Linked DNA regions of Homo sapiens. The protein of the gene in region 2 interacts with the protein of the main gene of each other region in a pairwise test. Each region holds a gene or a part of one and is shown on either strand. Other genes may lie near its edges. The genes, in order: ROBO2 and RDH11.

Region 1 (3,826 bases), on a different chromosome or scaffold from region 2:
TAAGTCTTCCTCAGTTGCCTCGTAAAACTTTACAAAGATAGTACCTCAGTTGAACTTGTCACTTTTAGCAGAGATCTCAGCAATAGTAAATATAAATCATAGAATGATAGCATCTCGGAGCCATTATGAATATTTGCAGCTATATTGCACAACTCTCTTATTGGTTGGGCACATGGAGAACTGAAGCTTAGAGATTTTATGTGCCTTGTCACAGATCCCATTGCTACTTAGTGGTAGAGCAGAAACTAGACTCCAGGGATGCTTCATCTCTGTACCAGGCTTCTGCCTATGAGAGACTGTTTCTGGATTCTTAGCCCTGGAACTCCTTAACAAGAATTCCAGGCTCTTGTTACTGAAAATGACCAGCTATTTTCTGAAGAGTCCATGAGAAAATGAGCTTGAATATGTTTAGGTTATTCCTTTGATTCAACACATGCATATTGACAACATAACTTGCTTGGCTCTGTGAAGAACATGCTGACCTGTGAAAATATTCCCACATTCAAGGAAGTCATGACTTGGTAGGGAAGGTACCAAATGTTCAAGTCACTAGAATAAAAAAAGTAGTGTCTGATAAGTAAGAAGTTTGAAGGTGTACACAGTATAGTCTTGAGAACTCAGAGAAGGAATAGGTGATTTCCAGCTGGTACAATCTGGGAAGGGTCAACACCAAATGGGTCTCTTAACCTGGACCTTAGAGGAAGAGTGGGATTTTGGTGGGCAAAAAGATTGGAAATTGAATTCCAGGAAAAGAAGTAACCAGAAAAATGGCATGAAGATGACAAAGGGGTGCTAAGGAAATGGCAAGAAGTCTAGATTGATTGCAACATAGTTTGCCTGTAAGGAAGAAGGATAAGATGGTTATTGAAAGACTACTGAGCAATCACTACTGAATGAGTATGAACAAGTAATTTAACCTTTTTATGCCTCAGTGTCCTTACCTGTAAAATGGGCATGGTAATAATGTATATCTCATACAGTTATAATGAGAAATAAAATAGTTTTAAAAATATAACGATATATAGGCAGGGCATGGTGGCTCACGCCTGTAATCCCAGCACTTTGGGAGGGTGAGGTGTGTGGATCACCTGAGGTCAGGAGTTCAAGACCAGCCTGGCCAACATGGTGAAACCCCCTCTCTATTTAAAAAAAATACAAAAATTGGCTGAGCATGGTGGCAGGTGCCTGTAATCCCAGCTACTCAGGAGGCTGAGGCAGGAGAATCATTTGAACCCAGGAGGTGGAGGTTGCAGTGCCAAAATTGTGCCATTATACTCCAGCCTAGGCAACGGGCAAAACTCCGTCTCAAAAAAATATATATAATGATATATATAAATAAATAAATATATATATAAAATAAAGATGTATATAAAGATATATATGGGCTGGGCGCGGTGGCTCACGCCTGTAATCCCAGCACTTTGGGAGGCTGAGGCAGGTGGATCACGAGGTCAGGAGGTCGAGACTATCCTGGCTAATACGGCGAAACCCTGTCTCTACTAAAAATACAAAAAAATAATTAGCCGGGTGTGGTGGCGGGCGCCTGTAGTCCCAGCTACTTGGGAGGCTGAGGCAGGAGAATGGCTTGAACCTGGGAGGTGGAACTGGCAGTGAGCCGAGATCGCGCCACTGCACTCCAGCCTCGGCGACAGAGTGAGACTCCGTCTCAAAAAAAAAGATATATATGATGCCATGAACAGTGTACTTTATAAATGCCACTCAAGCATAACTTATTGTTATAATTAGTAGTATTTTTATTAGATTATTATTCCCTGCCTAGTATGAACAAGGAAAATAACTAGAAGAGGACTTTGCTATCAGACTAATTATGGACTACAATTGGGGTGCATGTTAGGACAATTTTAATAAGATTTTTCAGCTGTGAGTCTTCAGGTGACTGATTAAGAATTTTTGTTGCCTCTTAAGGGAACTTATCGGTGGCCTCGCCTACACAGCTGTGACAGTTGTGCTATGACATGTGTGTTTCCATTGCATCATAAGCTGATTACAAAACACATGTGATTCCCAAGTGAAAGGTGCGACGAATGAAGATAGTAAACAAGAGAGGAATCACACAAATGGCAATTTGTTAGCAAGTAGACCATGCTTGTGTAAGCCTGCATTTTGGTTCATGTTGGCTGATTTACATTTCATCCTGGATAATTTTTACCTGGTGCTTTGATATAACGTACTGTGGAGATAAATCTTGTGTAAGACAAACTAAATAAACACTTTGAGAACCGAAGACCTAAGTAAAAATTAACATTTGGTATCCACTCACTAATTCGTTTTCTAGATAGCCCCCTTAGCTTCCCTTCATTTAGTATAAGACATTGAATCTAATAACTTTTTATAATTATCCATTAGTTACATTTGCACAATGAGTAGTTATGCATATCAGAAAGGATAGCCTGAATAAAACAATATCATTACTATTGTGGAAGTGACATACCTTTGGTGACCAGATCTCTGGACTGCACTGTTAGCTTCCCTAGTGGATTGTTAATTGTTCTAATTGCCTTAGAACCTTACCAAAAATGGTTTCATTTGACTGTGTAATTTCCAAGGTCTCCATGAACCTTAGGTTTTATTATCCCAAGTACTTCTGTTTAATGTTCCAACATTTATTGTTATATCTGAGAATTTTTAAAGAAGAAAATTTAGCCTGGGCTCGGCGCAGTGGCTCACCCCTGCAATCCTAACAATTTGGGAGGCTGAAGCTGAAGGATCGCTTGAGCCTAGGTGTTTGAGACCAGCCTGGGCAACATAGTGAAACCCTGTCTCTACAAAAAAGAAAAAAAGTTAGCTGGGCATGGTGGTGTCCACTTGTGGTCTCAGATACTTGGGAGGCTGAGATGAGAGGATTCCTTGAGCCCAGGAGGTTGAGGCTGCAGCGAGCCATGATTACACCACTGCACTTTTGCCTGGGTGACAGAGGCCCCGTCTCCACACACACACTCACACAAATTTAGGCTTGAAAAGAATTATCCAAAACCATAAACATCCATCTTTAAAAACAATAACAGTCTATTGTCTAATATGCATGTAGCATATCTGTGTTTTGGTGTGGGTTCAATGATATGGCTATGGATATGCATGACAGCCAAAATTAACTAGTCTTATGATTCACATCCACTCTCATTCATTAATGACCAGTGGTACTTAGGCTTTCCTTATCAATAAATGGAATTTTAAAAATTTAATACTAAGGAGACAATAGTCTTAGGTCAATGTGCTTAGTTTCTGGCCACTATAACTAGAACCATATGCAACATGGAAATTTTAGCTCAGGAGAGGGGGTTAACAGCCACTTTTTAATTTCTGTTGTAAGGATTGATGTGGGATCTCTTTCCCTAGACTTTGGTTCCAAGCTTTTTGGAAATGAGCTGGAGAACATGGAATATAACTCAACTATCCCACTGAAAGGCTTTTCAAGTTTAAGCAAGGAACACCCAGTTGAAACCAGACTGGAATTTAAGGGATTTGGACCAAACCTCTGCAGCACTTATAACCAATTAAAATGTTCATAAGTGTGATTCAAAAAGGGAGAATTTTGACTTTCCAAAAAACTTGAGTTAAGAGTTATTCATTATAAAGGAAAGTTTATAAGTTTTTATAAATCAAGGTTAGAGTCGTACTTAGAAGTTTTATAATACGTATATTTCCAAATACTAGCAAATGCTAGAATATGATTAAACTTATTTAGATATATCCGATTATTATAAAATATAGATTTCAGGGTTAGAGTAAATTAGGGGAAATTTAGAATGAATCTAGCAACAGGCACTCTTGTATTTTATATCTCTATTATAAAGTAAATTTTAAT
Region 2 (3,826 bases):
CTGACACCCATGTATATCCATCTTCTTCAAGTAAGTCCATAAGGCCCATTCTACAGAGCCTTGGACAATGTCATATAGCTGAGATCCTGCTATTCACATTGGTCAGAGATGCCTGGAGTAGTAAAAAAAAAAAAGAAATGCTTATTTCTGGACTCCTTGAAGTTATACTGTTAGTAAACTCATATGAGAAGTAAAGCCAGCTTCGAAAACAACAAAAGGAAAAGGCGACACAGAAAAGAAATGGTAAAACCAAGGTACGAGGTGTCTTGGTCCATTTTGTGGTACTGTAACAGAATACGACAAACTGGGTAACTATAATGAGCATACAGAAACTGGCTTATGATTATGGAAGCTGAGAAGTCCAAGATCAAGGGGCTGGCATCTGATGAAGGCCTTCTTGCTGTGTAATAACAAGATGGAAGGCATGACATGGGCAAGAGAGGGAAGGGGACACAAGTCATCCTTTAATAAGGAACCACTCCCAAGATAATGAACCCGTTCCAGAGATAATGGCATTAAACCATTCATGAGGGCTGCCCTTGTGACCTAATTTACCTCTTAAAGGCCCTGCCTCTCTATACTGTTGTATTGAGGCTTAAGTTTCCAACATATGAACCTTGAGGGACACATTCAAATCATAGCAAAGTGTTTCATATACCCTCTCTTCATTGCTGTAATTAATTCCAAGTTTTTTTTTTTTTTTTGGAGGCGGAGTCTCACTCTGTCGCCCAGGCTGGAGTGCAGTGATGCGATCTCAGCTCACTGCAACCTCCGCCTCCCAGGTTTGAGCAATTCTCCTGCCTCAGCCTCCAGAGTAGCTGGGATTATAGGCGCCTGCCACCATGACTGGCTAATTTTTGTATTTTTAGTAGAGACAGGGTTTTGCCATGTTGGCCAGGCTGGTCTCGAACTCCTGACCTCAAGTGATCCACCTGCCTCGGCCTCCCAAAGTGCTGGGATTACAGGCATGAGCCACTGCACCCAGCCTGTAATTCCAAGTTTTATAATTTTATAATTCCGATGCAGAAAATTTTCTTAAGGACAATTCTGACTCATTTTTGTATTCTCTGGATCTGGTATACATCTGGTAAGCATTCAGTCAAAGTTTTAAAAAAAATGATTGAATGTATTACAATCTTTAGTCATGTGAGGAAACAATTTTTAAAAGTATACTATTTCAAGAAAATTGCTTCCTCAGTATCTAAGCAAATTCTGAAGGTGAAAGAGTTGACAAGTCTGAATTAACTATATATGCAAACTCTTAACACTATGTCAAGTAAGACAGTGGGATTCAAAGTGTGCACCACAAACCAGCAGCAGGAGCATCAACTGGGAGCTTGTTAGAAATTCTCCAGCCCTACTCCAGACATACTGAATGAGAATCTCTAGGGTTGTGGTCCAGGAATCTATTTTCAACTAGTTTTCCAGATGACTCTTGAACACACTAAAGTTTGAGAAATACCATTTCAAAATATCGTCACGTTTACAAAACAAGTCTTATCAGTACTTCTGTTTAAGAAGACTCACCAGTATGACCAGTACAACTTGCCATTTCCTAGTGAAAAGATCATCAGTGAGAACCACAAGGCTCTGTATCTCTCTGGAAATGACTCAGCCTTTGTAAGCCTCTGCATCCTCCACTGCACTGTGCCTTATACTCTTCATAAGGTTACAGTTAAGAGCAAAGAACACAGTTGACATGAAGGTTCCTTGTAGGCTATAAAAACTAATCAAATACTACAGCAAGAGCTTTCTGGTTGTTTTTTTTAGACAGGGTCTCACTGTTGCCCAGGCTGGAGTGCAGTGGTGTGATCGCAGCTCACTACAACCTCCCCAGGCTCAGGTGATCCTCCTATCTCAGCCTCCCAAGTAGCCAGGACCACAGGGACACGCCACCACGCCTGGCTAATTTTTGCATTTTTTATAGAGATGGGGTCTCATTATGTTGCCTAGGCTGGTCTTGAACTCCTGGGCTCAAGTAGTTTGCCCACCTCAGCCTCCCAAAGTGCAGGGATTACAGGCGTGAGCCGCCGCGCCCAGCCAAGTAAGAGCTAGTTAAGTGTGCCTATGGCATCAGCATGGTCACAGTATTGACATTTCCAGGGGGATTTTGCTAAGAATTAGTATAGGTAAAAGATAAACTAATTTCAAAACTTACTACAATGCTATAGTAATCAAGATAGTGTGATACTGGCATAAGGACAGACATACAAATGAACGGAACAGAAAAGTGAAACATAAACCCTTATATTTATGGTCAATTGATTTTTGACAAGCTTACTGTTATACTCCAATTGTGTTCCCCCAAAATTAATATGTTGAATCCCTAACCCCCAGTGTGACTGTATTTAGAGAGAGGGCCTTTAAGGAGGTAACTAAGGTTAAATGAGGTCATCAGGGCGGGGCCCTAATCCAACAGGGCCTTATAAAAAGAGGAAGAGACACCAGGAGTGTGTGTACATAGAGGAAAGGCCATGCGAGGGCTCAGAGAGAAGGCATCCATTTGGAAGTCAGGAAGGCAGGCCTCACCAGAGACCAACCAGGCCAGCACCTTGATCTTGGACTTTCAGTCTCCAGAAGTGTGAGAAAATAAATTTATATTGTTTAAGCCACCCAGTCTGTGGGATTCTGCTATGGCAGCCTTAACAGACTAATACAGATACCAAGACAATTCAATGGGTAGAAAACTGTCTTTTCAACAAATGGTGCTAAGGCACTGGATATCCACATGCAAAAGAATGAAGGTTGACCCCTACCTCATATCATATACAAAAATTAGTTCAAGGCCGGGTGTGGTGGCTCATGCCTATAATCCCAGCACTTTGGGAGGCCGAGGAGGGGGATCACTTGAAGTCAGGAGTTGGAGACCAGCCTGACCTACGTGGCAAAACCCCATCTCTACTAAAAATACAAAAATTAGCCAGGCATGGTGGTGTGCACCTGTAGTCCCAGCTACTCGGGAGGCTGAGACAGGAGAATTGCTTGAACCCAGGAGGCGGAGGTTGCAGTGAGCAGCCTGGGTCACAGAGCAAGATTCCGTCTCAAAAAAATAATAATTATAAAATAAAATAAAAATAGTTCAAAACAGATCACAGACCTATGTAATGCTACAACTATAAGACTATTAGAAGAAAACATAGGGGTTGCTATAGTTTGAATGTATCCCTTAAAAAATCACATGTTGGAAACTTAGTCCCTCTGCCTTCATGAACAGATTAATTAATAAAAGCTTTGCCCTCATACCTGGATTAATGTCACTATCATGGGAGTGGGTTTGTTCTTGCTTGCCCTCTCACCATGTGATGCCCTCTGCCATATTATGACACAGCAAGAAGGCCCTAACCAAATGCCAGGCACCATGTTCTTAGACTTCTCAGCCTCCGGAACCATGAGCTAAGTAAATTTCTTTAGAAATTACCCAGTCTGTGGTATTCTGTTTAGTAACAGAAAACTGTCTTTACTAAAGACAGTAGTAAATCTTTGTGACCTTGGGTAAGGCAATGATTTCTTAGATATGACTGCACAAGTGACAAAAAATAGATAAACTGGACTTCATCAAAATTTAAGTTTTACATTTCAAAAGATACCATTAAGAAAGTTAAAAGACAACCCACAGAATGAGAGAATATTTGCAAATTATATATCTGACAAGGAACTCGCATCTAGACTATTAAGAACTCTTGTAACTCAACAATAAAAAGACAATTATCCAACTTAAAAATGGGCAAAGGACTTGATAGACATTTCCCCAACAAAGAAACAAATGAACCAAAAAGCGCATGAAAGAATGTTCAACATCATTAGTAGGAAAATGAAATGAAAATAA

What was found.
Region 1: the proteins of RDH11 (region 2) and ROBO2 interact in a two-hybrid assay, tested with the Homo sapiens proteins (one large-scale study listed by BioGRID and IntAct).

The regions. Positions count from the first base shown.
Region 1 is NC_000003.12:77,046,379-77,050,204, forward strand, and holds part of ROBO2 (roundabout homolog 2 isoform 23 precursor), read left to right. Parts: intron 1-3,826. UniProt on the Homo sapiens protein: Receptor for SLIT2, and probably SLIT1, which are thought to act as molecular guidance cue in cellular migration, including axonal navigation at the ventral midline of the neural tube and projection of axons to different regions during neuronal development.
Region 2 is NC_000014.9:67,678,717-67,682,542, forward strand, and holds part of RDH11 (retinol dehydrogenase 11), read right to left. Parts: intron 1-3,826. UniProt on the Homo sapiens protein: Retinol dehydrogenase with a clear preference for NADP. Displays high activity towards 9-cis, 11-cis and all-trans-retinol, and to a lesser extent on 13-cis-retinol.